Homo sapiens: one gene and its partners. The protein of the gene in region 1 purifies or fractionates together with the protein of each later gene. This does not show direct contact. Each region holds a gene or a part of one and is shown in the gene's direction. Other genes may lie near its edges.

Evidence for each region.
Region 2: the proteins of TDRKH (region 1) and MTARC2 purify together in Homo sapiens (affinity purification with mass spectrometry; one large-scale study listed by BioGRID and IntAct). This does not show direct contact.
Region 3: the proteins of TDRKH (region 1) and SENP1 purify together in Homo sapiens (affinity purification with mass spectrometry; one large-scale study listed by BioGRID and IntAct). This does not show direct contact.
Region 4: the proteins of TDRKH (region 1) and ESPL1 purify together in Homo sapiens (affinity purification with mass spectrometry; one large-scale study listed by BioGRID and IntAct). This does not show direct contact.
Region 5: the proteins of TDRKH (region 1) and ZNF644 purify together in Homo sapiens (affinity purification with mass spectrometry; one large-scale study listed by BioGRID and IntAct). This does not show direct contact.

Annotation. Positions count from the first base shown.
Region 1 is NC_000001.11:151,783,591-151,790,059, reverse strand, and holds part of TDRKH (tudor and KH domain-containing protein), read left to right. Parts: intron 1-6,469. UniProt on the Homo sapiens protein: Participates in the primary piRNA biogenesis pathway and is required during spermatogenesis to repress transposable elements and prevent their mobilization, which is essential for the germline integrity.
Region 2 is NC_000001.11:220,756,465-220,762,933, forward strand, and holds part of MTARC2 (mitochondrial amidoxime reducing component 2 isoform a precursor), read left to right. Parts: intron 1-5,193; coding exon 5,194-5,356; intron 5,357-6,445; coding exon 6,446-6,469. UniProt on the Homo sapiens protein: Catalyzes the reduction of N-oxygenated molecules, acting as a counterpart of cytochrome P450 and flavin-containing monooxygenases in metabolic cycles.
Region 3 is NC_000012.12:48,066,127-48,072,595, reverse strand, and holds part of SENP1 (sentrin-specific protease 1), read left to right. Parts: intron 1-874; coding exon 875-929; intron 930-5,630; coding exon 5,631-5,669; intron 5,670-6,469. UniProt on the Homo sapiens protein: Protease that catalyzes two essential functions in the SUMO pathway.
Region 4 is NC_000012.12:53,269,747-53,276,215, forward strand, and holds part of ESPL1 (separin), read left to right. Parts: coding exon 1-339; intron 340-631; coding exon 632-736; intron 737-931; coding exon 932-1,052; intron 1,053-2,974; coding exon 2,975-3,111; intron 3,112-5,070; coding exon 5,071-5,264; intron 5,265-6,469. UniProt on the Homo sapiens protein: Caspase-like protease, which plays a central role in the chromosome segregation by cleaving the SCC1/RAD21 subunit of the cohesin complex at the onset of anaphase. During most of the cell cycle, it is inactivated by different mechanisms.
Region 5 is NC_000001.11:91,013,783-91,020,251, reverse strand, and holds part of ZNF644 (zinc finger protein 644), read left to right. Parts: exon of another isoform or gene 1-269; intron 270-6,469.

The DNA of each region.
Region 1 (6,469 bases):
ATATCACTTTGCCTTTAACTTTCCCCAGCTTTTTCTTTAGTTATCGCTAATAGGATGGCTGTTTACAGTCGTCAGAATAATACATTGGGGTTTTTGTTTTTCCAGTATCCCTCATTCCTTAATCCAGGTATCATCGTGGGGGTTGGCTGGAGACCCCTATTTCAAAGACTGACTTTTAGACCCTTTCCTTGTTTTGAGAGAAAGGGGTTGACACTTTTTTTTTTCTCGTGAATTTAAAATAAACGTACCAAGGATGAGAACATTGAGCTGCTTCGATTCAAGCATGTCACCATGTTGTAGGTTCTTTGTAGGTTCTGGTTATTAGGAGATACTGGAATGAGTTATCTATGCTTTCATGGAGCTAACAATGTGATTTGACTTCTCATCACATCCTATTTGACTCCTGTCATTTTAAATGATAAAGTAAGCCTTAGCGATGCATATCAGATAGTTTTTGGCAATTGTTCAATACAAATGTCAGGAAATTTCAAAGTTAGCTTTCACTGAAAACCATTATCTAACCACATTCCTCACTGAACAATGATCCTCATCTTCTCTTCTTAGCTTCCCCTAGAAACTGTGGTCTTAAGTTCTAGTATTTTCCTCCTTCCCATTCAATTTTTAAGTAATAAAATCAAACACAAGCTAGCAGTCAGTACTATGCAGTTATCCCCGTTTACATTATATTATTTTCCATTTCTCTTTAAGAGAAACTTATAGCTGAAAGGATATGAAAATTGTGAACAAAACCATAGTGACAGATCAAGTAGAGTCTCATTTTTTGAGACATCAGCTGATAACTCAATTAGCACAAATTCATTTGTAATGTTTGAAGAGGAGTTAGTGAAATTTACCTTTTGCTTCAAATAGAAGTCGGCCAAAACCGCACCTATAATCTCAGCTACGCCGGACGACTGCGGGAGTTCAAGGCTGCAGTGAGCTATTATCATTCACTGCATTCCATCCTGGGTGACAGACCAAGGCTCTGTCTCTAAATAAACAACAACAAACTCTCCAATTCATCTGTTCTCCATCTCCATCATTGACACCTGGACTAGGCCCTGATTGGTCTCCTGCAGCCACGGTTGCTGCCTTCAATTCATTCTCCTCACCACGGACACAGATGTTAATCAAGAATGACAAGCATGGCATGTGTTATCAAGGGATATTGGGGATTCTGTGGAAACCCATAGCAATGTAATTCAACCCAGTGTAGGGGGTCGAGATTGAGGGGCCTTGGCTGCAGAGACCCCTCTGCACTTGATCTTGATAGTGTCAGAACTGGAAAACAAAAGTGCTGCTAGTCCTTTGGGCCTCTGTAAAGAGGTGTGATTATGACTGGCCATCAAAACAGACTTATTTCTATTGCACACTGTATTGTGTAGAAATGACTAATGAGCTGTGTGATCTTAGATCAATCCTTTTCTATCCCTTAGCCGCAGTTTCCCAAATTGCAACGTTATTAATGGAATCAAATAAGTTCTGTAGTCCCTTCTAGTTATAAAATCTTGTGATTTCTATGCCCCATAAGCATCAATTATGGCCAGTTTTTAAAAGCAGACAGCATGAAAATACAGATCCAGTTTATTCTTGTTCACAGGGCTAGATTTCAGTTTCCCAAAGCCCTTAAGACCTAAAGACTCCTGCCTGTCAAGATCTTCCTTGCCAGACAGGAAACTCCATGAAGGCAGCTGCCAAATCTATCTTGACTGTTGTGTCCCGAGGGTCAAGCACACATCAGAATTCGATATTTATTGGCTTGAATAAATGTCCATTTAGTGCAGTTCATTCATGTAGTATAGGTTTGCGGAAGAAAAGTGAGTTGTATTTTAATGAGATGATTTTCAACTATACACCATCTAAGAAATAAACCTTAAGGTTCTAGCTACTTTCAACTGTCGCATTGACCAAGAATTTATACAGTTGTCCCTCCCTTCGTTATTTGCAGGGGATTGGTTCCAGGAACCCTGCAGAACCCAAATCCATAGATGCTCATGTCCCTTGTATAAGATGCATATTATTTGTATATAACCTACACACATCTTGCCCTATACTTTTTTTTTTTAAACCCCTTGAGACAAATTCTCGCTCTGTTGCCCAGGGTGGAGTGCAGTGGTGTCATCAGTTTACTGCAGCTTCCACCTCCTGGGCTCAAGCCATCTCCCACCTCGGCCTCCTGAGTAGCTGGAACTACAGGTGTGCAACACCACGCCTAGCTAATTTTTTTTTTTTTTTTTTTTTTTTTTTTTTTGTAGAAACAGAGTCTCACTATGTTGCCCAGGCTAGTCTTGAATACTTGGTCTCAAGCAGTCCTCCTACCTTAGCCTCTCAAAGTGCTGGGATTAACAGGCATGAGCCACTGTGCCCAGCCTGTTTTGGTGTTTATGTTTCCTAGACTATGAATATTTCCAAGTAGAAATTCTTCTTCCTCCTTCTGTCCCCAACGTGCTCAGCACACAAGAAAGAGCTAGCACTATTTAACCAAGATGCATTAATAATGGAAACAAGCTTTGCACTTTAGTGGTCATATAAGAAAATACCTAAGCCAGGCGCAGTGGCTCACGCCTGTAATCCCAGCACTTTGGGAGGCCGAGGTGGGCGGATCATGAGGTCAGCAGTTCGAGACCATCCTGGCCAATATGGTGAAACCCTGTCTCTACTAAAAATACATAAATTAGCTGGGCATGGTGGCAGGTGCCTGTCGTCCCAGCTACTCATTAGGCTGAGGCAGAAGAATCGCTTGAACCCGGGAGGCAGAGGTTGCAGTGAGCTGAGATCGTGCCACTGCACTCCAGCCTGGGCAACAGAGTGAGACTCCGTCTCAAAAAATATATATATCTAAAGTAATCAGGGGACAAAAGAAGTCAAATTCTTTCTAGACACCAAGAATAAACCATCTCAATGTAGGAAAGTAGCAGTTTGGGAGGTGTGTATTCAAGAATTATTTAAGTCAAAAATCTCCTTTATGAAACAACTTGTTTCCTTTCCTTTGGTATATACAACGATGCTTATATAATACCATCCAAACTTTCAGGATGGTGAAAGCTTTTATTTGCAGTGTATTTAAAAAAAGAGAAGCTTATCCAATGACTTGGGAAAAGAACCTCATAAATGAAAACAAACAGCCTACATTAACCTCAACCCTTTCTGTCCTACATTCTAAAAAGGTCGGGAGAGAACAGTATTCCCTCAGATTGATAGTCTCTAAAAATGATATACTGAATTCACTGAGTAACTAATGACCCAAAATAGACGACACCCTTGAAAAGAGGTACCCATCCCCCACCTCGGGTAGTAAAAGGCCGTTTTATTATTTGCTCAGGCTTTTGAGTCCGGGCAAGAAGGTGGATTAAATTTGTTTAAAACCAGGATATAGAAAAAATAGATTTGGCAAACTTCTGGTAGTTCTCTGAAGAACTTTATTCAGTTCTGTTGATCAGTAAAGCTGTGAGGCCAGATGCAAATTCTGGTCATCTGTATGACAGTGTAGTAGTCTACCCTTCTCCGTGGTTTTGCTTTCACTTACCCATAGTCAATCCTGGTCCAAAAAGATTAAATGGGAAGTTCCATACGTAAACAATTCTTAAGTTTTAAATTGTGCACCATTCTGACTAGCATGGTGAAATCTCCATCCTGGCCCAGACGAGAATCCTGCCTTTGTCCAGCATATCCATGCTGTATATGCTACCCGCCTCTTAGTCACTTAGTAGCCATCTTGGTTATCAGATTGAAAAAACCTATAGTTTTCAGTACTCCAAGGCATCCACTGGGGTTCTTGGAACATATTCCTCGAGGATAAGAGAGGATGACTGTTGTAAGAAATCTACCTCCAGCCTCCCTTACCTGACTATATCTGCTCCTCAGTGAGATTTCGGTGCTAGATGTTCTCCTTTCTCTCTTTACTCTTCCAGATTGACTGTGCTTTCCCTGAAAGCCTAAGTTTTATTCCACAGTAGGTTTTGTATTAATGAGTATGTTTTTAGCCTTACCAGGATATAGCCAGTTTTTCCCCCCAGGGTGAAATACATTTTTGTTTATTATAATTATTTGGGTTGAATTTTTGTACCTGGAGGTAAATTATGGCATAAGTTACATTTACTCATTTTTAAGCAAATCTTATTTAAAGCCAGCTTGCTTTGTTCTACTAGATTGTAATATCTGGAAATACAGATATTTAGTTTTCAGTTTTTTATCACCTATCTTTAGTTTTTTAGTCTTCAGTGTTTTTTTAACCACCTACAGTACTTTCTACCAGTATTAATTTTGAATTGAATATGTTGATCAAAATAAAGAATAAAAATACAGGTGCTGTTACCCTAAGAGCTTAGGTAAAAGGAAGAGTGGGGAAGGATTTCTAAAATCACTTTACAAGGTTTTTTACAAGCAAGAATAACCCAGACTCTGGGTTAGAGATTAGATAACCTCTTCAAGCATGGGTACTCTTCTATGGGATTAATATTTCCTGCCTTACAGGGTTATATGACTGTAAAATAAAATTATGTAATTTGCCTGGCATAGTAGCTACTCAACACATTATCTCTTCATTTTTGTGTCTTTAGTGCCACAGTAGCATCTAGCACATAGTACTTACTCCAGCTCTTGTGTTGAGAATAAACTGAATGGACAATGGCAAAGGCAGGAACGTAATTAAGCAATGCAGTAATCTAGGGAAAAGATAATGGTGTTTTAGAGCAGGGTCATAGAACTGCAAAGAGAAAAAGTGGTCAGATTCTGGATGATTTGAAGGTAGAGCAAATAAGATTTGTTGACAGGCTAGGTGTGCAGTGTGAGAGAGAGGATGACTAAGGGAGTAAGAGAATGCAGTCGAGGCAGAGCACAGTGGTTCACACCTGTAATCTCAGCACTTTGGAAGGCTGAGGTTGGTGGATCACTTGAGCCCAGGAGTTTGAGACCAGCCTGGGCAACATGGTGAAACCCTTTCTCTACAAAAAATACAAAAATTAGCCGGGCATGGTGGCATGCACCTGTAGTCTCAGCTACTGGGAGGCTGAGAGATGGGAGGATTGCTTGAGTCCAGAGGTTGTGGCTGCAGTGAGCCATGGTTGCGCCACTGCACTCCAGCCTGGCAACAGAGAAAGACCTTGTCTCAAAAAAAAAAAAAAAAACGAATTGCCATTTGCTGAGATGGCAAAGATTATGGGAAGGGGGTGAATCAGGAGCTCAGTGTTAAGTTTGAGATGTCTATTAGACATCAAATGGAGATCCATGTAGGCAGTTGAGAAAGGTCCTAAATGGATCTATTAATTTGGAAGTTATCAGCATCTAGATAGGAGTTAAAGCCAGTCCGTGAATGAGACTTGAGATCACCAAGAAAGTGAGGTAGAACAGAGAAGAGGGCGAAGGACAGATCCCTGAGGCACTCCAGTGTTTAGAGGTTAGAAAAATGTGAAGAAACCAGCAACTGGGAGACTGATGGAATAGCCAGAAAGGAAAGAGGAAAACCAGGAGGGTGTGCTATGGAGAATGTGTTTCAGAGAAGAGGGAATCATCAGCTGTGCCAAATACTGTGGGGACATCTGGTAAGATGAAAACTGAGAATCGATCTTTGGATTGAGCAGTATGAAATCATTGGTGACTCTGATGTGAGCAGTTAGAGTGGATTTAAGAAGAGAACTTGAGGACAGATATATTGACACTCGAGTTTTCCTTTAAAAGGAAGAAAAGAAATGGGAAGTAGTTGAAGTGAAATCCAGGAAGGGTTTTCTTTAAGAACAGAGAATGTTTGTCTGCTGATGGGACTATCCAGTAGAGAGGAAAGAAAACGTTAATCATGTAGTAGAAGCAAGGAGAACTTGTGGAGCAGTGCTTTTATGAAAGACTTCAGTGCTAGGAGCAGAGACAGTTCATCTGTGGTCACAGGAGAGAACAGCAAGCATTTAGGCACAGGTGGAGGAAGGTGGGCAAATGTGTAGAAGCTTGTGGATATTTTCTCTGAATGCTCTCCTTTTTTAGTGAAATAGCAAGGACCTCAGTTGAGAGAGGTTGGAGGAGGCAGCACGAGACGTTTGAGTGGAGAGGGAGGCTGAGAAACTATGTGGAATAAGGAAATATAATGAGGAACATGTTAAAATTTGCTTGGCAGCAAAATGAAGATACAGTGTCAAAGAGAAACTCAGCACAAAAGCCTGTAAGAAGTCCACTGCTGTGGTCTAAATAAGATTTGAGCTTCTGAATCAGGCCAGATGCAGCATTGTTGATGTCATTAGCATATAGGTAGTAATTGAACCCACATATGTGGATGAAATGGTCTAAAGAGAGCAGAGTGACATTAACAATTGATGGCACAGGATGAGAAGCCCAAACTTGGAAGGACCCTCCAGGGAAATAAGAGGAAACCAAGAGAAAGAGGGCACAGAAACCAAGGAAAGAGTTTTGTGGAGGGAGTGGCCACCTTCCTGCTACCGCAGAGAGATGGGTGAGATAAGGCTCCATGCATGACCTGTAGGTT
Region 2 (6,469 bases), about 69 Mb from region 1:
TTTACAAACGAGGAAACCACGTCTTAGATCACTGCCACGAAAACACAGAGCTGGGATTTGAACCCACTTCCCTCCTAAGGCTTTTGCCTTTAACGTGTTTGTGTAGGGAGAAGAAAAGCTTTTCCATAAATGACAGGTTTTGAGCCCATCAGTTCATTGAAGAGGAAGTGTGTAGCCATCTCGGCTTAATTGGAAGACATGTGAAGGTGATGGGTAAATACGTAGCTGACATGTGTCACATGAGTAATATAGGTGTTGCCCTGTAGACTCACTGTGTTGCCAACAGTGAGCAAGTTTTTCCCCCAAGGCTCTTTACCAGCTAAATAGGCAGAAATCTAGGGGGACACTCACCTTCCTGGATGGAAAGAGGGAAAGAGGAAGACCTTGCAGGTGAGTTGCCTGGGTCTGAAAAAGACAGCAATTGCAGCCTATTCTTTTTTATTTATTTATTTTTTGAGACGGAGTTTTGCTCTTGTTGCCCAGCCTGGAGTGCAATGGCACGATCTTGGCTCACTGCAACCTCCACCTCCCAGGTTCAAGCGATTCTCCTGCCCCAGCCTCCTGAGTAGCTGGGATTAGAGGCATGTGCCATGACGCCCAGCTAATTTTGTATTTTTAGTAGAAATGGGGTTTCACCATGTTGGCCAGGCTGGTTTCGAACTCCTGACCTCAGGTGATCCACCTGCCTTGGCCTCCCAGACTTCTGGGATTGCAGGCATGAGCCACCGTGCTCAGCCTGAAGCCTCTTCTTATGTAATTCTGTTCCATGCATGAATTGTAGATCTGGATGAGGTGGGAATAGAGAGCCTGGAACCCTGGCAGTTTGGTGAAAATGATTGAGAGCTGTGCATTTGGATTGATGCAGAGGTGTAGTCAGCGCACTGCCCTCTCTAGCTGGTTAGACATGCTGTAACTAGTTCAGCCTGTATTTATAAGCTATTTTTAATGGATTCGTTGCCAAGGGAACTGCTAAAAACTGAAGAAATAACATAGATAGTGTGTTTAGCTAGTGCCAGCTGCTGTGACAAAATACCATAGTCTGGGTGGCTTAAACAACTGACATTTATTTCTCATAGTTTGGGAGGATGGGAAGTCTAAGATCGAGGTGCTGGTAGATTGGTGAGGTCCCTTTTCAGGGCTGTAGATGGCCACTTCTCGTTATGTCCTCACATGACCTTCCCTGGTGCCTGCATGAAGAGAGAAAGCAATCTTGTGTTTCTTCCTCTTATAAGGGTGCCAATCCCAGCATGAGGGCTCCACCTCATCTAACCCTAATTACCTCCCATAGGCCCCACATTGGGGGTGAGGGTGTCAACAAAGGAATTCTGGGGAGACACAAACATTTAGCCCCTAACAGATGGTAAGCGACAGAGTGATTACCACAGCCAGCCCACCAGAGCCCAGAATCAAATAACATAAACCAACAACCTCAAGTTAGTAAAAAGAAAAGTCCCTTCACAGACATTTGGACAAGGCTGAAGTGTTATGAATTTTATATTATTCTACACTTATTTTATTTTATTATTATTATTATTTTTGAGATGGAGTCTCGCTCTGTCACCCGGGCTGGAGTGCAGTGGCGCGATCTCAACTCGCTGTAACCTCTGCCTCCTGGGTTCAAGTGATTCTCCTGCCTCAGCCTCCTGAGTAGCTGGGACTACAGGCGCACGCCACCACGCCCAGCTAATTTTTGTATTTTTAGCAGAGACGGGATTTCACCATGTTGGCTACCATGGTCTCGATCTCCTGACCTTGTGATCCACCCGCCTCGGCTTCCCAAAGTGCAGGGATTACAGGCATGAGCCACCACGCCCGGCCACTTATTTTTTTTAAACTTTCACTGTTAGTGTTTTGAATCAGCTTTCCCTGTTCACCTTGTGTGGTGTTAAGTTTTTTTATACTAATTATAGACCAGTATGGCTTCTTGATTATCACAAGTATTTATGAATAATTATTACCTTTTTTTTTTTTTGAGATGGAGTTTCGCTCTTGTTGCCCGGGCTAGAGTGCGATGGCACGATCTCAGCTCACTGCAACCTCCATCTCCCAGGCTCAAGTGATTCTCCTGCCTCAGCCTCCTGAGTAGCTGGGACTACAGGCATGCACCACCACACCCGGCTAATTTTTGTATTTTAGTAGAGGTGGGGTTTCACCATGTTGGCCAGGTTGTTCTCGAACTCCTGACCTCAAAGTATCCACCTGCCTTGGCCTCCCAAAGTGCTGGGATTACAGGCATCAGCCACCGTGCACGGCCTGATTATTGTCTTAAAAGGTGAAGCTAATGTTTTAAAGTAGGGGGAAGTAAGACATGACTTCAACCCTATATTGAATTTGTGGTTCAATTTACAGAAAATTGATGTGAAAATATGTGTGTGTGTGTGTGTGTCTGGGTGTGTGTGTGTGTGTATTAAATAAAGCACTTGCAAGAGGACCTGGTATACAGTAAGCACTTAACTGGATATTAGGTCTTAAATAGCTATTATCTTTATTGTATTAATCCACCTTATCTATGAATATTATTTTTCTTCACTTGTTTGTGTCTTATCTCTTTAATAAAGTTTTATAATTTTATCTGTAATGTGATTTTACATGTTTTGTTAGATTTAGTCCTAAACATTTACTCTTTTCTTCCACTTTTACATAGCAAGTCTTAAAAACACTTTTTTTGTTTGCTGTGTAAGATTGGTATTATTTATTCTTTAATTATTGATAGAACTTGCCAGTAAAAGTATCTGGATTTTCTTTGTAAGAGTCTATTCAAGTTTTTATGTCCTCTTACATAATTTTTAGTGAGTTACTTTTGATTAGTGAGTTAAGAGATTGCTTACTAATGAAGTTTTATTGAACCCAGAGTGAGGGTCAGTTTTTTCTATGGAATGTTGCTGATGAGACATTTTGTGTCAAAATGTAGAAGAGAGTGGACTTTGCAGAAAATTCTGCAAGAATTGGAGAAGATGGCATGGCAGAGGGAGCGATACCATCCAGTGCAGGGATGGGAGACAGGGCTGGTGGAGGGATGCCTTCCATCGGGGGGAAGGGGCTCCGGTTAATCAGTATTCCATTGCCCTGTTGGGGGCTTTTCTGCTTTTCAAAGTGCCACCCATAAGCTTTCCCGGGTGGGTGGAGACTGTGAGTAATATGTGTGCACTTATGTACAAGTGCTGTTCTGAGGGGATGAGGGAAGAGCTCCATCCAGGAGCATGTACTTAGGGAACTGCTGAACAGTGGGATGGAATCAGTTTTAGGGGAAAGGCAGAAGGCCAGGAGAGGATCATGAGATGTCTGTAGAGCCAAGAATTAATCAGAGGTGAAACAGTGGCTTCGAGAAGGGGGTTTAGAGGGAAGGAAAAGGCCCAAGAAATGTGAAAGGAACAGCACTGAGATTTGACAGTAGATAGGAGAGGAGGTGAGAGGTTGGGAGTCTCTACCCTCAGACCAGGATTGTGAGTTGCAGGGTACACAGGGGTTCATCTAACTGGGAGCACCTCAGGTGTCCACATTGAAATCCTTCACATGCATCGCCTCAGGAGTCCTCACACTGGTATGAGCCTTCCCACGGGGAGGGGCAAGCCCTTCCCATGGTAGATGAGGGTAGGGGAATCAATTTCCAGATCCTGTGAATTATATCTACAATCAGCAAGTTCTCCGGTCTCACCATAAACATTTCTTCTTTGTACAGAGGAAAGGCTTTTGTCTGTCCACCCCACATCTTACTAGGGGCATTGCCCTTGGAGGGAAAAACATACAGGGACCCAAACAATGAAAAATGCTGGTGTTGATAAAGAGGGTGATGTTAATGACAGGGTAAAATGGTTGTACAAGTCAGTGGTTCCAACTCTTTGTCTTACATTAAAATGAAGGGGCCTCCAGTGAAATTGTTGCTGATAAATCATTAAAAATACTTTTTGATGACAAATCACTATGTGAAATATATTGCCTGGAGATTCAAGGAATAAGTGAAATTACTATAACTCCCATTTCTATCTATTTGTTTGTGTGAAAAATTCCTCAGGGCTTATTTAAAAGAAAGAAAATTGATACTGAACCTTGTCTTATTCTAGCAATATGTGAGATTCATTCAGAGTTTTATGGATATTTTATGGGGTTCATTAAGCATTTGATTTCAAATAAAATTTCACTTTTTAAGTTCATGAATTATAAAAATATATAGCATATCTATTTTGTTATGATCAATTGTATATAAATCATAATTGTAATGATAACTCAATCCTGAAAACATTTCTTCACACTTGAAAGCTTAAGAAACAAAACAAATTTAATTGATTCAAAAGAAATACAGTAAGTGAGCGATAGCCATAAAAATACATTAGGATAAAATTACATAAGTAAAATAATATACATATGTGTTCATGAATAAAAAGAGGAATAATACAAAAATGTTTAAATGGATAATGGTGGATATCAAACCAACATGGCATTTAGATCCCGTTACACACTTTTAAAAGCATAATGTAATCATTTTATTTTAAATGTCAGTGTTTAGAATTCAATGGAAATGATGTCTTTCAGAACAAATTAAACTTATGATGAAAAAGTTTACCTGTCAACTTATAGTTCTGTGAAGGGTCCATAGCTTTTTAAAACTCCATTAGGGGAATTTAAGCAAGAAAACCTTGAGGGCCGCTGTGTTATCTAAAGTTATCTGTTCCCACCAAGTGACGTAGGTAGGTACCATATAATTATTTCCAATTTACAACTGAAGACAGGTCAGAGGAGTTAAATGATTTGCTTATGGTCACAGAACTAGAGAATGGCCGAGTTCCAATTTGACCCAGGTCTGTTGGATTCTAAGCTCAGGGTGCATCTGCCACAGGGCAGCCCCTCTCCTCTTGTGAAAGTGTCCTAAATCCTTACGTTCATGGACCAGCAGCTTAGGCATACAGAAGCTTGTTGGGAATGCAGAATCTCAGACTCTAACCCAGACCTACTGAACCAGAATCTGCATTCAAACAAGATCCTGGAGGATTTGCACATACATTAGGGTTTGGGTAGCTCTTCCCCAGAGCACACTCTACTCCTTTCTCTTGCACTTCTGCCCAGCTTTGACCCAGGGACCACTTAACAGCCCTCTGGGATGGTCAGGTCCCAACAGTCCAGCTGTTCATTTTTGACACCATCCCTCAGTGTATTGATATAAGTAAGTAACCTGGTGTTCTTTTGTGACCTTTCCAGGATATTTGGCCTTGACATTAAAGGCAGAGACTGTGGCAATGAGGCAGCTAAGTGGTTCACCAACTTCTTGAAAACTGAAGCGTATAGATTGGTTCAATTTGAGACAAACATGAAGGGAAGAACATCAAGAAAACTTCTCCCCACTCTTGATCAGAATTTCCAGGTGAGCTTACAGAGAGTTTACCTTCACTGCTACTAGTCACCCTTCTCTTTCTGGCTTCCTTCCCAGTTGATAAAGAGCCTCTCTTGGGACCTCAGTTAAGAAAATATGATAATGGCCCTGGTGAGTGATAATGAGGGCACAGCCTAGGCAGAGGTACCAGGGGATGGAAAAGAAGGTGGATATGAGAGGTGTCTCAAAAGTGGGATCTCTAGGGTGTATGGAGGATTGAATATGGGAGATATTGTGGAGGGGGGAGCCAGGGGTGACTCCCAGGTAGATGGAGATGCAAGAGAAAACTGGCTGGAGAAACAAAAGTGAGAAGTTTGTTTGGGACTAAATCCAAGTTTCCTGGAATTATAGAAGCGGACTTTGTTCTGACCCGCCCCTCACAATCTGTGACATGTGCTTATTTCAGGTGCTGGCGAGGCGCCTCCCCCTAAGGAAAACTGTCCCCTGAGCACCTACAGCACCTGGCAGCTATTTTTCAAATTATCAGATAATACAGAGTGCCGACATGTACGATGGTTTATACTAGGCTCAGTGCAAAAGACCAAAGCCTCTGATTCTGCCATGAGCTAAGGTTTAAAATACAAGGACCTCAGGGAATTTCTCTCCATAGCCCCTAAACTACAAGCTCCTTGAGGGCAGGGGTTTTTATCTGCTTTCTTTACTGCTGTTTCCCCACTAGAACAGTGCCTGGTAGGTGCTCAGTAAATGCCTAGTGAGTGAATGGTGTTGTTGAGGAAATTATTACTGGAGTATAGCTGATTGGCAGCAGGTCCTCGCTGTTTGAGGATGATGGGGGAAGGGGGTCGCTGCTGGAGTGGGAGTGGGAACCCAGGAAGAGGAAGCCTGGTGAGTGACATTGGCCCAGAGCCGGCCCTGGCTGCAGCCCTGTCCCTGTGTATGGGCAGGAACTGCTCCAGCTCCTGGCCACTGCAAGCCCAAACTCACATCTCTCTCCTTCCTGAACACTGCTCCCCTCTTCTGCACTGAAGAGGTTTTGCTTCTGGACATTACTTAGCTTTGTAGTTGGTCTAGGCCATTTTGTGGAGTGGTGGGGCCTGACTATCCTGTGTTCTTGGCAAGGTGGCCTACCCAGACTACTGCCCG
Region 3 (6,469 bases), on another chromosome or scaffold:
CTCAGGCTGGAGTACAGTGGGACCATCTTGGTTCACTGCAACCTCGCATGTCCTGGGTTCAAGCGATTCTGCTGCCTCAGCCTCCTGAGTAGCTGGGATTACAGGTGTGAGCCATTATGCCCAGCTAATTTTTGTATTCTTAGCAGAGACAGGTTTCACCATGTTGGCCAGGCTGGGGAAGCACTTTTTACGGCTTCTCTTTGGCATACCTGAATTGCCAACATCATTACTTTTGCCTTTTGGGGACATTATTAAGTAAGGGTTACTGAACACAAGCACTGCTATACTGAGACAGTCAATTGGATGACTGAGGTGACTACTAAATGACAGGTGGTGCATACAACATGGATATGCTGGACAAAGGGATGATTTCATGCCTGAAATAGAGCTGGATAGAGATTTTTATCACATTACTTGGAATGGCATGCAATTTAAAATTTACTAATTATTTCTGGAATTTTCCATTTAATATATTTGGACCGCAGTTAACTATGCGTAACTGAAACCATAGAAACCAAAATTGCAGATAGAGGACTACCATGAAGACTTTTAAGGAATCCTGCCATGTTCTTGTTCTCCTGAAACAGACAGGAAGCACAGGGAGCAAGTGCAGCCTAGGAGGAAATTCTGAAGGGCAAATATGTTTGTTATTTCCCAGGGATTTTCTTATTTGTGAAGCAAATTCTTCACTAAGACCTATTTCTGTTCTCAGTGACAATGGACTTGCCTCTCTCTCTCTCCCATCTAACCTTTGTTCTTATGTTATTTTTGTGGAAATAAAATATAGCAAAGTATGGGAACTTAAACTAAGATATCTAGAAAGTATAACTTTGTGGAGTTTTATTACTAATGAAATGCTCTTGTGTTTCTTTAGGATCAGACTCTGTGATTTTACTGAAAGTGAAAGATTCCCAGACTCCAACTCCCAGGTAAACTTTGGAAAAAGCTTGTTCTTTATTAATTAATTAATATATCTTTTTGAGACGGAGTCTCGCTCTGTTGCCCAGGCTGGAGTGTAGTGGCGCGATCTTGGTTCACTGCAACCTCCACCTCCCTGGTTCAAGCAATTCTTCTGCCTCAGCCTCCCGAGTAGCTAGGATTACAGGCGCCCGCCACCACGCCCAGCTAATTTTTGTATTTTTAGTAGAGATGGGGTTTTGCTGTGTTGGCCAGGCTGGTCTCGAACTCCTGACCTCAAGTGATCCACCTGCCTCGGCCTCCCAAAGTGCTGGGATTACAGGCGTGAGCCACCATGCCTGGCCTAAAAGTTTCTTCTTAACATATTGTTTTCCCTTTCTTTAATCACAGCTTTTTCACTAAAAGTTACATAATGTAAAACTACCTCAATTCAGACCTTTCTCACGTATTACTTGAATTATTTTAGTGGCTTTATAATTGTTCTTCCTTCAGCCTCTATTTTGTTCTTCATTCCGTCTTCCACCATACCATGTTCTTGAAACAATTTTTCTGCCTTGCTCTTTTTTCATTTGTTTTTGTTTTTGTTTTTGTTTTGAGACAGGGTCTTGCTCTGTCACCCAGGCAAGAGTGCAGTGGCACAATCATGGCTCACTGGAGCTTTGAACTCCTGGGCTCAAGTGATCCTCTTGCCTCAGCTGGGACCACATATGCATGCCACCATACTTGGCTAACTTTTAAATTTTTCTTTTGTAGAGACGGGATCTTGCTATGTTGACCAGGCTGGTTTTGTACTCCTAGCCTCAAGCGATCCTCCTAACTTGGCCTTCCAAAGTGCTGGGATCGTAGGTGTGAGCCACTGCACCCGGCCTGCTGTGTTCTTTAGTCCATCTTCCATGCTGCAATCAGAGTGATCTTTCAGAATTCATGTCTGATCATTCATTAAAGGGGTTTAATGATTATTTGTTAACCTCCTTCAAGGGTGGTTTATCAGACATTGAATTAAGCTCAGGCTCCTTACTATGGTATACAAAGCACTTCTTTCACAAGCCTCACTTTCTCACTTTTAACAAATATTTACTGAGAGCCTACTGTGTGCCAGGTACTAGTATAAATATTGAGGATAATAGGGAACAATGTGAAGTCCCTATTCTCAAGGAGCTTGCATTCTACTTGAGGGGAAGGATGAAGGACAATGTGAAGTCCCTATGCTCAAGGAGCTTGCATTCTACTTGAGGGGAAGGATAAACAAATGTATATGCCTTGTGATAAGTGCTATGAAGAAAATTGAAGCAGGGTAATATATAGAGTAGGATTGGGAGGATACTATTTGTATAGGGTGGTCATGGAAAGTCTCTGATAAAGTGACTTGAGCAGAGACATGATGGAGGTAAGAGGGAGCCATATGGAAATATGGGACTCTTTCATGTGTTTTTATAAGCTGGACTATTTTCAGTTTGCAAATACAATAAGCATTTCTTACCTTCACATTCAGTGTTCTTTTTGCCTGGAATGTCCTCCGTACCTCAACTTTGTCTGTCAGTAGTGTTTTATCTTTTAGGTCTCAACTCACATGTGAACTTCTGCATGAAACTTTACTTATCTGGAGGTATCAAATACTTCTTCCTCTGTAATACAGTAATAGTAATCCATAGTAACCATTACTATGATTGCTATGCCTTTGCCATATATGGCTTTGGGAATTCAATTGCTAGGATGAGAATAATATCAGTTTTCCGTTGAGAAGATTAAGAGTAATGAAATATTCTTTCTCATCTCAGTTCCCCTACTTCTTTGCAGCTCCCCATATGTTCTAAGCTTTAAATATTTCTTAAAATTCTCTATTTGTTAAGTCTTTTGGGGAGACTTCATAGTTTGGATTCTTTATTTCTTACATCTTTTTTGGAGTCAGATCTGCCTTCTGATCTTGGGTTGGAAAAGGCTTCATGTAGCTTTGGACAAGTTACTCTTATGAACCTCAGTTTCCTTATCAATAAAATGCCAGTATTGATACCTTACACTTAATTGTGAAGATTAACTTACAGATAAAACACTTATTTTTATAAGTGCTTCACATGAAATGCCACAAGATGCATGCAACTTTCTTGGGAAGAAGTTGATCTCTCAGGTAAAGAGTTGATCTCAGTTCCTTAATGGTTCTTTACTAAGACTGCCTTTCCTTTACGGAGGATTTCCCCTAGTGATGACTAAAGAATGAGATGGCAGGAGAAATGGTCTGTTGGGTAAGGCTGTTTGAGCAATGCTCTTTGTCAAAGTTGGTGCCTACTCTGCTGAGGCTTGGTTTATTGGCTCTCTACTCTTAATTCTCCACTACTGCCTCTCAGTTAAGTTCCAGTAATGAAGATCTGCTTTTATTTCCCAGAATATGCTATGCTGTGTCATACCTCTTTGCCTTTATACATTCTGATCCTTCTGTCTGGATGTCCCTTTCTCTCTCTGTCTACTTGGTAAGCTCTTATTTTGCTTCCTTTTCTTTCTTTCTTTTTTTTTTTTTTTTTTTTTTTTTTGTGACAGAGTCTTGCTCTATCATCCAGGCTGGAGTGCAGTGGCACAATCTCTGCTCACTGCAACCTCCGCCTCCCGGGTTCAAGTGATTCTCGTGCCTTACCCTCCAGGGTAGCTGGGATTACAGGCATATGCCACCACACCCAGCTAATTTTTGTATTTTTAGTGGAGATTGGGTTTCACCATGTTGGCCAAGCTGGTCTCGAACTCCTGACCTCCGGTGTTCCACCCACCTCAGCCTCCCAAAGTGCTGGGATTACAGGCATGAGCCACTGTGCCTGGCCTTAATTTTGCTTTTCAAAATCTCATCCAGGTGTTATTTTTTTTTTCTCAGAAGATTTCTTTGACTTTGCCAGATAATGTTAGTTTTTCCCTCCATCCTTCTACCTTGTTTGTTACTAATACTTTTGTATCTGTCACCCATTGCTGGTCATAGTGCTTGGCATATGATGGGTGCTCAGTAAATAAATCTTTGTTAAACAAATGAATTTCCTAGATAGCCTGAAGTGCTCTCTTGAGTAGCCCAAGTACTTATTCCTCCCCCGCTTTTTTTTAATGCTTTCATCTATTGAAAGGCACAGTCGAAAGAACACAGTCTTTGGAATTGGACAGATAAGATTTCTAATCCTAGCCTTTCAAGAGAAATTATCTTTTTGAACCTCCTTTTTCATTTCTGTACAGTATGAGTAATAATTCTTTTTTATATATTATGTTGAGGTTTAAATAGTATAGGGATTTTCATTAGGCTTAACTAATACATAAAACATCTAGAGCAGAGTTTTACATGTAGAGCACTAAGTATGTGCTCAAAAACATTTGCAGTTATTATTACTATATGCCTCAATTATATGAGAAATAATGCATCTCTTTGGAAAAGCAGATTTTCCCTGCATTTTGTTTTCCGGAGCCAGTGGATACCTTGATCCATTGAAGAAAACTGCTTGTCCCTACATTACTTGTTTATTCAAGAAATACTATATGGCTGGGCATGGTGGCTCATGCCTGTAATCCTAGCACTTTGGGAAGGCCAAGGTGGATGGATCACCGGAGGTCATGAGTTCGAGACCAGCCTGGCCAACATGGTGAAACCTCGTCTCTACTAAAATAAAAATAAAAAAAAGAAAAAATTAGCCAGGTGTGGTGGCGGGTGCCTGTAATCCCAGCTACTCAGGAGGCTGAGGCAGGAGAATCTCTTGAACCCGAGAGGTGGAGGTTGCAGTGAGCCGAGATTGTGCCACTGTACTCCAGCCTGGGCAACAGAGTGAGAGTCAAAAAACAAACAAACAACACTAAATGCCTACTCTGTGCCAAGCACTATTCTAGTTGCAGATCATTTTTTTTTTTTTAAGAGACAGAATCTCACTATGTTGCCCAGGCTGGTCTTGAACTCTTGGCTCAAGCGATTCTCCCACCTCAGCGTCCTAAAGCACTGGGATTACAGGAATGAGCCACCATGCCTGGCCTCTGATCCAGGTCTCTTAACTCCCAATTTGATGCTCTGTTTACTTGTTCTCTATATTTAATAGTTTTCTTTGGAAAAGTGTTCACTCTTCTTCTTTGTGTTTCTGTGATAGATCCTGCCTAGTTAGGAGTTTGGAGATAAGGAAGTTTGAGAAAAACAAGAGGCTCTAGGACAATTAATCATGTCTGTGGCTCTGCTCAGCATATCACTTGGGTTGTCAGCAGAGCCACATGGACCTAGAATTGGCCTGTCATCTTTGGAAGGAAGTTGTGTTGCTGATTCTCTGCTTTGGCTCATTGGCTTGTTAGCCATTTGATGTAGATTATTTTGTGTGTGGGGATTTTTAATAAATCTTTCAATCTGAGTCATTTGGGAAGAGCAATGTTCTAGCTTAATGTATTATTTTGAGAAGTGATGTCCTCTTTCACGTAATGTTGGTCTCATGCAAGTAGGGAGCTATGCCAAATGTAGTATCTCTGCTGAACTTTGGGTCACCTTTTTAACTAATATGTATCCATATGATTTTAACTAATATGTATGCATAAGGATTGTGTCTCCTTAATTCCTAGTTACAATTATTTTATGTCATTTAGATTCCTTTTACTTATTCCATACTTGTAAAGCACTCATATAAACAATTTAAATGATTGTTTTTATTGATGAAAATATTTTAATTTTCTCATAAGCCTCCTGCTCATTTGTCAAATTTTTCTTTTCCTACCCATAGTTCTACTTTCTTCCAGGCAGAGCTGTGGATCAAAGAATTGTAAGTTATTTTTGGTATCATTTTTCCTTCTCAATCAGTTCATTTTTAGTTAGAAGAAATCAAACAATTAGCTAATCATCCTGCTTATTTTTTGCCAATAAGAAGTACCTGTTTAGGCTGGGCGCGGTGGCTCACGCCTGTAATTCCAGCATTTTGGGAGGCTGAGGCAGGTGGATCATCTGAGGTCAGGAGTTCAAGACCAGCCTGGCCTTCATGGTGAAACCTCATCTCTACTAAAAATACAAAAATTGGCTGGGCATGGTGGCACGCGCCTGTAATCCTAGCTACTTGGAAGGCTGAGGCGGGAGGATTGCTTGAACCTGGGAGGTGGAGGTTGCAGTGAGCCGAGATCACGCCACTGCACTCCAGCCTGGGCAACAGAGTAAGACTCCATCTCAAAAAAAAAAAAAAAGAAGTGCCTGTTTATACTTTTAAGTTGTTGGGTTTTCAAAATATTGTTGGAGTTGGAACATTTCTATACTTATGTTTATTAAATCTATAACAATTGTTGAAGCTAAATTAAATTGGAAAAATAGAGTTAGCTATTATATAATAGGGAAAATAAATGATCCTATTTTGGCATTTGTAAAACTAATTTATTGAATAATTCATATTTCTGGACTTTGCAAAATCACTGAAAGCATTTAGTCTCACTTAAGGAACTTAAGTTATCCAAACCCCTCGGTCTCGGTAATTTTTTAAAAATCTATCAAAAATGAAGTATTTGAATTAAACTTCAGTGATATCTTGTATTCGTTTCTCCTTTAGGGTTCAATCCCATTTTTGGATTTCCAGACTGA
Region 4 (6,469 bases), on another chromosome or scaffold:
GACAAAGCCATCAGCGCAGTGGAGAAGGCTCACAGTTACCTAAGGAACACCAATCTAGCCCCTAGCCTTCAGCTATGTCAGCTGGGGGTTAAGCTGCTGCAGGTTGGGGAGGAAGGACCTCAGGCAGTGGCCAAGCTTCTGATCAAGGCATCAGCTGTCCTGAGCAAGAGTATGGAGGCACCATCACCCCCACTTCGGGCATTGTATGAGAGCTGCCAGTTCTTCCTTTCAGGCCTGGAACGAGGCACCAAGAGGCGCTATAGACTTGATGCCATTCTGAGCCTCTTTGCTTTTCTTGGAGGGTACTGCTCTCTTCTGCAGCAGCTGCGGGATGATGGTGTGAGTTAAGGACCTGGAGGTAGGGTGGGGACGTGGTCTGTGGACTCACTACCAGCCTAGGGTATTTGGCAAGATCTGGAGGTCCTGGCTCCCTCCTTGTTAAGCTGCTCTCTGGACAGTGCCTAGCGAGCCAGCAAACAGCCTAGTCTATCCTGAGAGGGCAGTGGCCCTTCTGGATGTCCTTCCTCGTGCTCCCTGGGCTCTGTCAGCTCTCCAGGACTCCGGGTCAGTCTTCAGCTTGGAGCCCTCTTTATCTCTACTCCTCATACCAACCTTCCGCTTCCTTCCTCAGGTGTATGGGGGCTCCTCCAAGCAACAGCAGTCTTTTCTTCAGATGTACTTTCAGGGACTTCACCTCTACACTGTGGTGGTTTATGACTTTGCCCAAGGCTGTCAGGTACTGTCTGGGAATCAAGGTACCTGGACTAGGCTCATAGGGTTTGGGGTTGCTCCACTGCCCTCAAACAGCTTTGGGGTTGCTCCACTGCCCTCAAACAGCTTTGGGGTTGCTTGGCTTTGGGTGTGGAGTGCGGTGGAGGTCATCTTGGACCCAGCATGACTCCTCACTCTCAAACCCTTCTTGTCCCTTCAGATAGTTGATTTGGCTGACCTGACCCAACTAGTGGACAGTTGTAAATCTACCGTTGTCTGGATGCTGGAGGCCTTAGAGGGCCTGTCGGGCCAAGAGCTGACGGACCACATGGGGATGACCGGTTAGTGCCCTGGGTCCCAGGCACAGAGTTTGTGGGAGGGTCATCACCCATTAGGCAGGTGAATAGTACTTGCTGCGTGGTTCTGACCACTGTGAGGGTTCCTTATGGTTCAAGGAGGCAGTGAGAGAAATGTTTATAAGTACCAGCTACTCTGTGTTTAACACCAGTAGAGAAGTGATGAAGCTAACTTACAACAGCAGACACTATTTCCTCGACTGGAATCTAACTTGGCATTAACAGTTGCACCTAATATGCAACCTTATGACCTTTCAACATATTTTTTTATTTCTATATTTTTTAATGTTTTTTTTTCCTTTTCTTCACTTATCAGAATCCAGAAATCATTACAAATGACCTTTCTGTATATTTAAGTGTTTTTTTTTTTTTTTTTTTGAGACAAGGTCTTGCTCTGTCACCTAGGCTGGAGTGCACTGGCACAATCACGGCTCAACACAGTCTCAACCTCCCAGGCTCAAGCGATCCTCCCACCTCAGCCCCGCAACGAGCTCACCTTGCAGGTTCAAGCGACTCTCCTGCCTCAGCCTCCCAAGTAGCTGGGACTGCAGGCGCGCACCACTATGCCTGGCTAATTTTTGTATTTTTTGTAGAGATGATGTCTGGCCATATTGTCCAGGCTGGTCTTGAACTCCTGGACTCGAGTGATCTGCCCACCTTGGCTTCCCTGAAACCCTGTCTCTACTAAAAATAGAAAACTAGCCAGGCAAGGTGGTGCATGCCTGTAATCCCAGCTACTTGGTAGGCTGAGGCAGGAGAGTCGCTTGAACCTGCAAGGTGGAGGTTGCAGTGAGCCAAGATTGCACCACTGCACTCCAGCCTGGGCAAGAGGGCACTCCAGCCTGGGCAACAAGAGCGAAACTCCATCTCAAAAAAAAAGGAGAATTCTTCCCACAGAGTACTGAAGACTGACTTTATTTTCTCCCAGTCATCTATGTTGATGGCCAAGAAGCTGCATAAATAAGTTATTATCATTTATTCAGCAAATATTTGTTGCCGGGCGCAGTGGCTCACGCCTGTAATCCCAGCACTTTGGGAGGCCGAGGCGGGCGGATAACGAGGTCAGGAGATCGAGACCATCCTGGCTAACAGTGAAACCCCGTCTCTACTAAAAATACAAAAAATTAGCCGGGCGTGGTGGCAGGCGCCTGTACTCCCAGCTACTCAGGAGGCTGAGGCAGGAGAATGGTGTGAACCCGGGAGGTGGAGCTTGCAGTGAGCCAAGATCGTGCCACTGCTCTCCAGTCTGAGCGACAGAGCAAGACTCTGTCTCAAAAAAAAAAAAAAAAAATTTGTTGAGTACTCACTGTGTGCAACGCACTATTTGGAGTACTTGGATGTGTCGGTAAGCAAAACAAAGTTTCCTTCCCTCATGGAGCCACGTTCTAGTTTGGGGGGAAAAGATAAACAGATTCAGTAAATAAGTGAATTATCAACATATTAGAACGTGATAAGAAATGTGGGGGAAAGGAAAAGTAGAGCAGGATAAGAAAGGGAATTGGGAGTCTAAGGTGCATGACGGGGGGCAAGTTACCACCTTAAATCAGGTGGTCAGGGTAGACCTCATTGAGAGGGTGACATGAGCAAAGGCTTGGAGGATGTGAGGGAGTCAGCCATGTGGGTTCCTGGAAAAGAACATCCCTGGCAGAAGAAACAGCCAGTGCTGAGGCAGGAGGGGGTCTCGTTTGTAAAATGAGTGCAGATGGGCTGAGTGGTGTGAAGGGCATGGGCCTATTTGGGGCAGGAAGGGGAGAGCCGCCCCTTCCCCATTCCTAGCAGTAGGGGTTCCTGTCTGATCTGGAAGCTGCTGAACTGACCACAGATCCAGCTGATCTCTGCTGCCTCTCCAGGAGGAGAGGGTGGTGGGAGCCTTTCCTATGGTCAATTGTGCCTTTTCTCCCCTGCAGCTTCTTACACCAGTAATTTGGCCTACAGCTTCTATAGTCACAAGCTCTATGCCGAGGCCTGTGCCATCTCTGAGCCGCTCTGTCAGCACCTGGGTTTGGTGAAGCCAGGCACTTATCCCGAGGTGCCTCCTGAGAAGGTACAAGGGAATGAGAGATGCAGGAAAGGAGCTTATGTGGTTGGGGAGCGGGGGGAGCGGGGAAGGGCCTCACCAGCACCCTGCCTTGGAGTGGGAGGTTAATAGCAGCATGTTGACACCAGTATCTGGAGCAGTGTTTCCCAAACCTCACTGTACTGTTACTTACTGTTGACTCATTTTTTTTTTTTTTTTTTTTTGAGACGAGTCTCGCTCTGTCGCCCAGGCTGGAGTGCAGTGGCACAATCTTGGCTCACTGCAACCTTTGCCTCAGCAAAGGTTCAAGCAATTCTCCTGCCTCAGCCTCCCAAGTAGCTGGGATTACAGGTGCCCACCACCACGCCCAGCTAATTTTTGTATTTTTTGTAGAGACGGGGTTTCACCATTTTGGTTGGCCAGGCTGGTCTCAAACTCCAGACCTCAGGTGATCCGCCTGCCTCAGCCTCCCAAAGTGCTGGGATTACAGGTGTGAGCCACCGCAGCCGGCCTGACTCACTTTTTATATTTAGCCTGGTCCTAAGCTACTGGTTTCCAGCCAAGCTGCACATTAGAATCACCTGAGTGACCTTTAAGAAAATTCTAATGTCTGCCCCGAGTTAATTGCATCAGAATCTCTAGTGTTTGCCGGGCGTGATGGCTCACGCCTATAATTCCAGCACTTTGGGAGGCTGAGGCAGGTGGATCACCTGAGGTCTGGAGTTTGAGACCAGCCTGTCCAACATGGTGAAACCCCGTCTCTACTGAAAATACAAACATTAGCCAGGCGTGGTGGCATGTGCCTGTAATCCCAGCTACTTTGGAGGCTGAGGCAGGAGAATTGCCTGAACCCAGGAGGTGGAGTTTGCAGTGAGCCGAGATTGTGCTACTGTACTCCAGCCTGGGCTACAGAGCAAGACTCCATCTCACATCTGAATATTTTCAAAGATCCCCCAGGTGGTCCTTTGAGCAAGGAGAGTGAGAACCTGGGTTCTTGGTTTTTTGGTTTTTTTTTTTTTTTTTTTTTTTTTTTTTTGGAGACTGAGTCTTGCTCTTGCTTTGTCACCCAGGCTGGAGTGCAGTGGCACGATCTCGGCTCACTGCAACCTCCACCTCCTGGGTTCAAGCAATTCTCTGCCTCAGCCTCCTGAGTAGCTGGGATTATAGGCATGCGCCACCATGCCTGGCTAATTTTTGTATTTTTAGTAGAGACGGGGGTTTCATCATCTTGGCCGGGCTGGTCTTGAACTCCTGACCTCATGATCCACCCGCCTCGGCCTCCCAAAGTGCTGGGATTACCGGCGCAAGCCACCGCGCTGGGCAAGAACCAGTGTTCTTAAGCAAGAATACCTGTGAACTGATGCATTGGCGGGATTGGCAAGCAAGATGAGTCATAGAGGGGCTTGGGTTTCATCTTAACTGAGATGATAAGCCTCTAAAGGATTTAAGTGGAGGCATGACAGCAGACAGGCATTTTGGATTTCCCTGACTTCGCTGTGATGAATGGAGTGCAGGAGAAAAGACCGGGTAATCAGGCTGCTATAGTATTCTAGGCAGGGAAGGGTGGGCTGAACTGAAGCAGCTGCACGAGGGATGGAATGCAGTGGATCGGTGCGAGAAGCCAAGGATTAACCTGGTAGGTGACTGGCGGGAGGGAGAGCGAGAGAAGGGAACATCAGAGATGGCCCCACATTTCTTACTCAGGAGAAGGCAGTGCCATTTGCTGAGAAGGATTACAGGAGAAGCAGGTTTTCAAGGGTGTGGATGATGAACATAGGGGTGGAGTGGATTGCAGCCTCTGAGTTGAAGGCACTCAGAGTATTTCATTCTTAGGTGTCTCCTGCCTTGGGTGGGTGTGGCTCAGGAGGCCCACCTGCCAACCCCGCCCCCTCATGTGGTGTATGTACCTATTGCATGCATATCCCCTTCCACCATACACACTCACTGGTTCCTCTCCAGTTTGGTCTGTTCCCTTTCTCTGGTCAGTTGCACAGGTGCTTCCGGCTACAAGTAGAGAGTTTGAAGAAACTGGGTAAACAGGCCCAGGGCTGCAAGATGGTGATTTTGTGGCTGGCAGCCCTGCAACCCTGTAGCCCTGAACACATGGCTGAGCCAGTCACTTTCTGGGTTCGGGTCAAGATGGATGCGGCCAGGGCTGGAGACAAGGAGCTACAGCTAAAGTGAGTTGAGGGCCAGACGCAGTGGCTCATGCTTGTAATCCCAGCACTTTGGGAAGCCGAGGCGGGTGGATCACTTGAGGTCAGGAGTTTGAGACCATGGCCAACATGGTGAAACCCCGTCTCTACTACAAATACAAAAATTAGCTGGGCATTGGCCGTGCACAGTGGCTCACACATGTAATCCCAGCACACATGTAATCCCAGCACTTTGGGAGGCCGAGGCGGGCAGATCATGAGGTCAGGAGATCGAGACCATCCTGGCTAATACGGTGAAACCCCATCTCTACTAAAAATACAAAAATTAGCTGGGCGTGGTGGCGGGTGCCTGTAGTCCCAGCTACTCGGGAGGCTGAGGCAGGAGAATGGCGTGAACCCGGGAGGCGGAGGTTGCAGTGAGCCGAGATCGTGCCACTGCACTCCAGCCTGGGTGACAGAGGGAGACTCCATCTCAAAAAAAAAGTGAGTTGGGGAGGGGGTCAACCATGTTTCTCCCATGGATAGGGTGGCTTTTGGTACTCATGGTCATGTCCTTTCATCTTTATGTCTGAAAAATACTAATTCCTTCATTCATTAGTTATTCATTGAGTGCCCACTGTATGCTAGCCACTGTGCTACTTGGGGGGTATAGTGGTGACAGTGGTCTTGCTTTCATGGAGCTTATATTCTACTTGGGGAGATATTTTTAAAAAGTACATTTTGCATTTTGTGTCTGTTCCTTTTTTTTTTTTTTTTTTTAATAGAGACAAGGTCTCACTATGTTGCCTAGGCTGGTCTTGAACTCCTGAGCTCAAGTGATCCTTCCACCTTGGCCTCCCAAAGTGCTAGGATTACAGGCATGAGCCAGTGCGCCCAGCCTTCACGTATGCTCTATGAAGACAATTAAACTGATTTGCTAAAAGAGGGAGCAACTTGAGGTGGGTTATTTAGGAAAACCCTTTTTGAAGAAGTGATAGATGAGACCTGAGGATGTGAAGGAATCTACTTTGTAAAGATCTCAGGGAGCCTGGGCAACAAAGCGAGACCTTGACTCTACTTAAAAAATATTAGCCGAATGTGGTGGCATGAACCTATAGTCTATTTACACTTGGTTAGGAGGCTGAAGTGGGAGGATCACATGAGCCTGGAAGATCAAGGCTGTAGTGAACCGTGATCACGCTATTGCACTCCAGCCTGGGCAACAGAGTGAGACTGTCTAAAAAAAAACA
Region 5 (6,469 bases), about 61 Mb from region 1:
GTTCTTTTCAGATATATATTTTCTCTTTTTTTAGCTTCTAATACAGAACAGTCTTGTATTAATGAATAGGAGATGCATTAACATTAGCAAATGTATTCCTGGATCATAAAGTTTTACAGTGGAAGCAATATCAAAGAACAACTGCTCTTACCCTCCTCTTTTACAATATATTGAGGACCAGAGATGATTAAGTTAGTGGCATAATGGAAAATTGCCTTTCAGCCTCTACCCATTGCTGTTTGTATTTGTCATATTGCTGGGATGAGAAGGTGAATATCTACAACTAATGGTTAAAAAAACAAGGGAATGTTATTGAGAATACTTGTTAATTAAATATTGTTAGGTTCATGAGAACTTCTGTGACAATAAGTTAAAAACTTTCATATTGGCCTGGCACGGTGGCTCACGCCTGTAATCCCAGCACTTTGGGAGGCTGAGGCGAGCAGATCACGAGGTCAAGAGATCGAGACCATCCTGGCTAACATGGTGAAACCCCGTCTCTACTAAAAATGTAAAAATTTCCTGGGCGTGGTGGTGCCTATAGTCCCACCTACTCGGGAGGCTGAGGCAGGAGAATCACTTGAACCCGGAAGGCAGAGGTTGCAGAGAGCTGAGATCGTGGCACTGCACTCCAGTCTGGTGACACAGCAAGACTACATCTCAAAACAAAAAAACAAAAAAACTTTCATATTCTGTGGTTAACTTGGTTTTTAAAGTGACTTTCAGTGAAACAAAATCAGGTACAAAATACAGAAATATCAGATAGTTTCAGAGCAATGTTGCTTTTGAATTTTAAGGTTTTCCAAATGCAGTCTTGACCCAGAAATTGAAAAATTAAAAAACAACAACCAGGGACTTGATAAATTTCTTTGAAAGTTTGAAATAACTGCTGTTATTGCCAGTTATTATGTAGGAAAAGAAATGAGATCAATGCTGAAAATAATGGTGTCTTTCATTTTGTAATAGTGTTTTGGTTGGATAAACGAATGTGCCACTCAGAATGTTCCCTTTCTTTAAAACAACTTTTTAAGACTACTACTTCTACTGAGTGGTACCTCTAAGGTCTGTTAGGAAATTGAACAAGTAGTGACAGTCATTTATGGTGGAACCCTATAGTGATTTTTAACTTCTTTGAATGTCAGATTTAGCAAAAAGTTAAATTGTTTTAAGGTTTTAAAAGTTTTTATGGGTCATATAAGGTGCTTTTAAATTACTGATTTTTGTTAGTTGATAAGCTGTTTTATAATTTTCAACATTATGTGAGTGGATTTACTTACACTTTCATTTTGTGAAAATTAGAGTCACTTTCAGGTTATTTGTAGTTATAAAGTGGTCTGTCACCTGCCAACCTTAAACATTTTCCAGTTTTAGTTTGTCATTCAAGTTATAAGAGTGTTTTGGTTGAATTGAGACTGTTAATGGGTAGCAGGAGGAGAAAAGAAAGTTTCAAAGAGAATAGAAGTGGTGGGATATCTGCAATCTAGAGAAAGGTCAGGTCCATTTTTTTTCTGTCATCCTAAATATTGTTTTTTAGTGTTACTTATTTAGACCATTTTCTCAGGATGTGATTCTGGAAGGAAAAGTGAATCTTATTCTTGGGAAGGCTTTTCAGTCAGGTCTTAAGACAATTGTAGCTTGCAGCAAATGGAGAAATTGGCATGTTGAGTTATCTAACCCTGATTTTATAGAGCACTTGTTTTAACCATTTTTTAAACTGTTTTCTAAATGTTTTAAATTAGTAACCTTGTAAAATAAAACGAGAATGAAGAGTGGATACTGTAATACTATGGATACATATTCAAATGAGCTTTTATTTACACTTATTAATCTTTCTGGTAGAGAGAATGTCTATTTCGTATATGGAGAATCTGTAAATATTGAGTAAAGTTGTCAGGTATAGCATTGACTGAAGCAGTTCTAGAAGTGGTGTTTTTGATTCAGGTTTATTAGAGGGAAATAAATAGCTGCTGTTAATAGTGCAAGCCGTTTACACCATTGAGTTTTGGGAGATTTGAGAATCATGGAACTGATGCTAGCACTAGCTCACCCTGCTGGTTGGCTAAAAGATTTCTCCTCTTCCCCTTAAGAAACAAACATGAAGATCACAGGAGACCCAGAGGGTAGTAAGACTCTAAATTAAATTCTGTCTTTCTTCAGGGAGAGGAAGTTCCCATGAAAAAGGTGTTTTCTTGTCTCTAAGGCCTTAGTTGCTGCATTATAATTTTTTTTGCAGATCTGCCAAGTTGAACCATGGAGTTACTATCCTTTCTTTTTCTTTCTTTTTGGTTGGGGGACGGAGTCTCGGTCTGTTTCCCAGGCGCGGGTGCAGTGGTGCAATCTTGGCTCACTGCAACCTCTGCCTCTCAGGTTCAAGTGATTCTCCTGTCTCAGCCTCTCAAGTAGCTGGGATTACGGGCGCCGGCCACCACACCTGGCTAATGTTTGTATTTTTAGTAGAGATGGGGTTTCATCATGTTGGCCAGGCTGGTCTCGAACTCCTGACCTCAGGTGATTCACCCGCCTTGGCCTCCCAAAGTGCTGGGATTACAGGCGTGAGCCACCGCACCTGGCAGTAGTTACTATCCTTTTTGAACTTCCTGGGAACTCTTATGTGATTATGGAAAGTTAGTATATTTTTATTCTTTTAATTTCAAGATAAGAAATCCTTTGACAATTGAGAGATGTTAGGAAGAAAAACAGCCCTGTGAGAGTAACTTTCCAGGAGGAAAAAAGCAGAGGATTTCAAGAGTAAGAGGAGGAGGAGCCTGCCAGGGCAGAAGTAGCAGCAGTGCACACTTCTCTTGGTTGGGAGAAAGTGAGACTGGATTAAGATTAGCGTTTCTGGGAGATTTTCTTTCCCCTCTCCTACTAATCTTGGCCCTACCTCTTCTGTCTGCTAGCTGTGGTCTTCCCATTTCATTTGGAATCCTTTGAACTGAGATTTTGTAAGTAAAAATAAAGATAAATGATTTGTTCCTTGAAGCTTAATTCTGTTAGCCTAGATTTTGGTAGAATTGAAGCTGGGTTAGAGTGATGAAGGCAGATTTTATGTGTTAAGCCTTTTGGTATGTGTATCTTTTTTTTAAGTTGAAAATACAGCTTTTAAAATACTTTATATAGGCCGGGTGTGGAGGCTCACACCTGTAATCCCAGCACTTTGGGAGGCCAAGGTGGGTGGATCACTTGAGGTCAGGAGTTTGAGACCAGCCTGGTCAACATGATGAAACCCTGTCTCTACCAAAAATACAAAAATTAGCTGGGCATGGTGGCACGTGCCTGTAGTCCCAGCTACTTGGGAGGCCGAGGCAGGAGAATCACTTGAACCCAGGAGGCAGAGGCTTCAGTGAGCAGAGATGCCGTGCCACTGCACTCTAGCCTGGGTGACAGAGTGAGACCCTGTCTCAAATAAAAAAGACTTTGTTCAAACTCTAGAAACGTAAGTATATTTTGAGCCAAATAGACAACTGAAAATTAAAAATACCTAATAAAGTGTTGATTAAAATTCTTTACACTTTACAAAGCATGTTTACCTGTAGTCTATCAATTATTTTATCTAATTTTTTGAAAAGATTAATATTTTACTTAAAAGTATCTCTTTCATTAGTTTCTTGAGGAAGATATTAAATACAGTCATGTGCAGCATAATGATGTTCTTTGGTCAATAGTGGACTGCATTTACGATGGTGGTCCCATAAGATTGTAATACTGTATTTTTACTGTATTTTATGTTCTATGTTTAGATACACAAATACTAAACAGTTATGTTACAGTTGTGTGTGGTATTCAGTACAATAACATGCTTTACAGGAGCATGTTGTAGCCTAGGAACAATAGGCTATACCAAGTAGCCTAGGTGTGTAAGTAGGCTCTACCATCTAGGTTTGTTTGAGTACACTTTGTGATGTTTGCACAGTGACCAAATTGCCTAAGAATGCATCTCTCAGAATGTACATCCATGCTTAAGTGATGTATGACTGTAAAACTAGTACTTTCAGAGCACCATTTATTGGGGAGGAGAGGGGTAATTCCCAATTTATTGTTGGTTTGTGAAGGTGGGTAAAAGGCTTCACAGAGTTGGAATTAATTGCCTTTTGTTTGCTACTGACTCACTAAATACTTTACACACAGACACACACACACATAGAATCACAATTGCAATTGTAATTATGCATATATAAAGAGGCAGGATATGATAAAGTTTGAAAGTGTAAGCCTTGAAGTAAAATTGACAGGGTTCAGATTTAGCTGTGTGAGCACTAGGCAAGTGGAATTAGTAATTACCATCTTCAAAGAGGTTTAGGGTTGATATTACATAATTCATGTAAAGTCCTTAGCTTTCTGGCATACAATGCTGAGTAAAGTAAGTGTTACCTGTTAGAGTAATAATAGTTATTATTACCATTGTTTAATTATTCTTTCTACATTAACTTGAGATTTTCACCTGTGAGTGATTTGCAGTTGTATACTTTTGCTAATGTCCCATTTTAAGCCATGCCGATAAAGACAAGGTTGTTATAGAGGAAGTGAGAGGTAGGCATCAAAGTGTGCCTTCTCTGATTCTAGCAGCAGAATCTTATAACCAGGTTAAATATTTCAGGAATGCATTCCCAGCACTGTCAGCAGATGAGTAGATACACTTGGGAATGAGTACATTTTAATGAAGTTATTTCCCAGCCAGTGCATTGGTTTGTCTTTGTTATAACATGCTGAATTTCTTCACTCTCCTTTCAATTTTTGACTGTGAGGCCATGTGGTGACTATTAGTAGAGAGAAGAAGGTGAGTGGCTATGCGTATTTGTAATGTACGTATAAACCCAAGATGAGAGTGAGGAGTGGCTGGTAGGTAGCTAGATTGAGGCGGGTGGAATATAATCTTTTCATTGGATAGTCTGAGTTGGGAATTTCCCAAACAGCATTTCCTTTTGCTCTTTTCCTCTCCACACTTTGTTTTGTATATGTCTGTGCTGGTATGGTGTTAAAGTTATCAGTTCCCCCTCTTTAATTTTCTTTCTACCACCAACCTCCTCCTAGCACAAACACGGATTTTAAGCTTATAAGCAAATTTGTCAAAGACAGCTAGTAAAAATAATTTTAGGTTCATTTGAGGAGGGGTACTAGTATGAAATTGTAAGTTTTTCATTTATGCTTGAAAAATACAGCAATTTGGAAAGTGAGGGAGGGGAAGTCACCCATAATCTTATTACCATTATATAATTATTAGTATTAAAGACAGATGACGTTAATTAAGCATCTACTATATTCTTTTAATAATCCTGTGATGTATATATTCCCACTTTACATGTGAGGAAACACATCCACTTAATAATGGAGTAGCCAAGTTTGAACCTAGGTATATCTTGAGAAGGTCTAGAGAGGAGACCTTTCTGTTCTACCTTCCTGTTCTTCTTACATATATATCCTTTTACCTAGTTGTTACACAATTTGTAAGTTTCATCTCCTAGTTTTAAAACTTAGCATTATAAAAACATTTTTCTCCCCCCCCTTATTTCAAGTGGTGTCGTATTGCTCTCATTGTCTATTCATACCACCATATAAAGGCTCTTTGTCTTGGCTGCTGGACATTGGTACAATGATGTTGACCAAAATGGATGCTGCCCTTTACTGAGTGACTAAGATGAAAAAAATCAGGCTTAATCAGAACTAATACTTTATGGGATTTGGATTGCTACAGGTTTAATCATGCTATCTATCCTTGCTGGTGGGACATTTGACTTAGAATTGTATATAAGTAAAATATAGATGAAAAATTGTATAATTTATAGCTATCTGAAAACAACTTTTTTTTAATATTTGAACACTTTGAAATGCCTTACACTTCCTTGTTAAAAATCTTAAAGGGATATTAAAATTAAATGGCACTTAATTACTATTAGTAATTCCTAATATAATATTTAATTCATAAAAGAAAAAAGCTTAATGTTGAATTCTGGCACTCATCGGGAAGATGACATTATATGTTAAGAGATAATTTGTGGGGCATAGTAACTATAGTTAATATTGCATACTTGAAAGTTGCTAGGAGAGTACATTTTAAGTGTTCACACCACAAAATATAACTATGTGAGGTAATGCATGTGTTAATTAGCTAGATTTAACCATTGCATAATTTATATGTATTTCAAAATGTGTTGTACACCATAAATATATACAATTTGTATTTATCAGTTTAAGAAGAAGAAGAAGAAAAAGGTAATTTGTGGGCATTTATAAATAGATTGTATAGGTCAGCACTGCCCAATAGAAATATAAGTTGAGCCACAAATGCAATTTTAGATTTTCTATAGCCACATCAAAAAATAAAATAAATAGGTGAAATTTTATTAATGGATTTTTATTTAACCCAGTATCTAAATACTATTATTTCATCATATAAACATGATTGAACTATTTTACATTTTTTCTTTTTTTAACCATGTTAAGTCTTCAAAATCTGTTAGTATTACATACT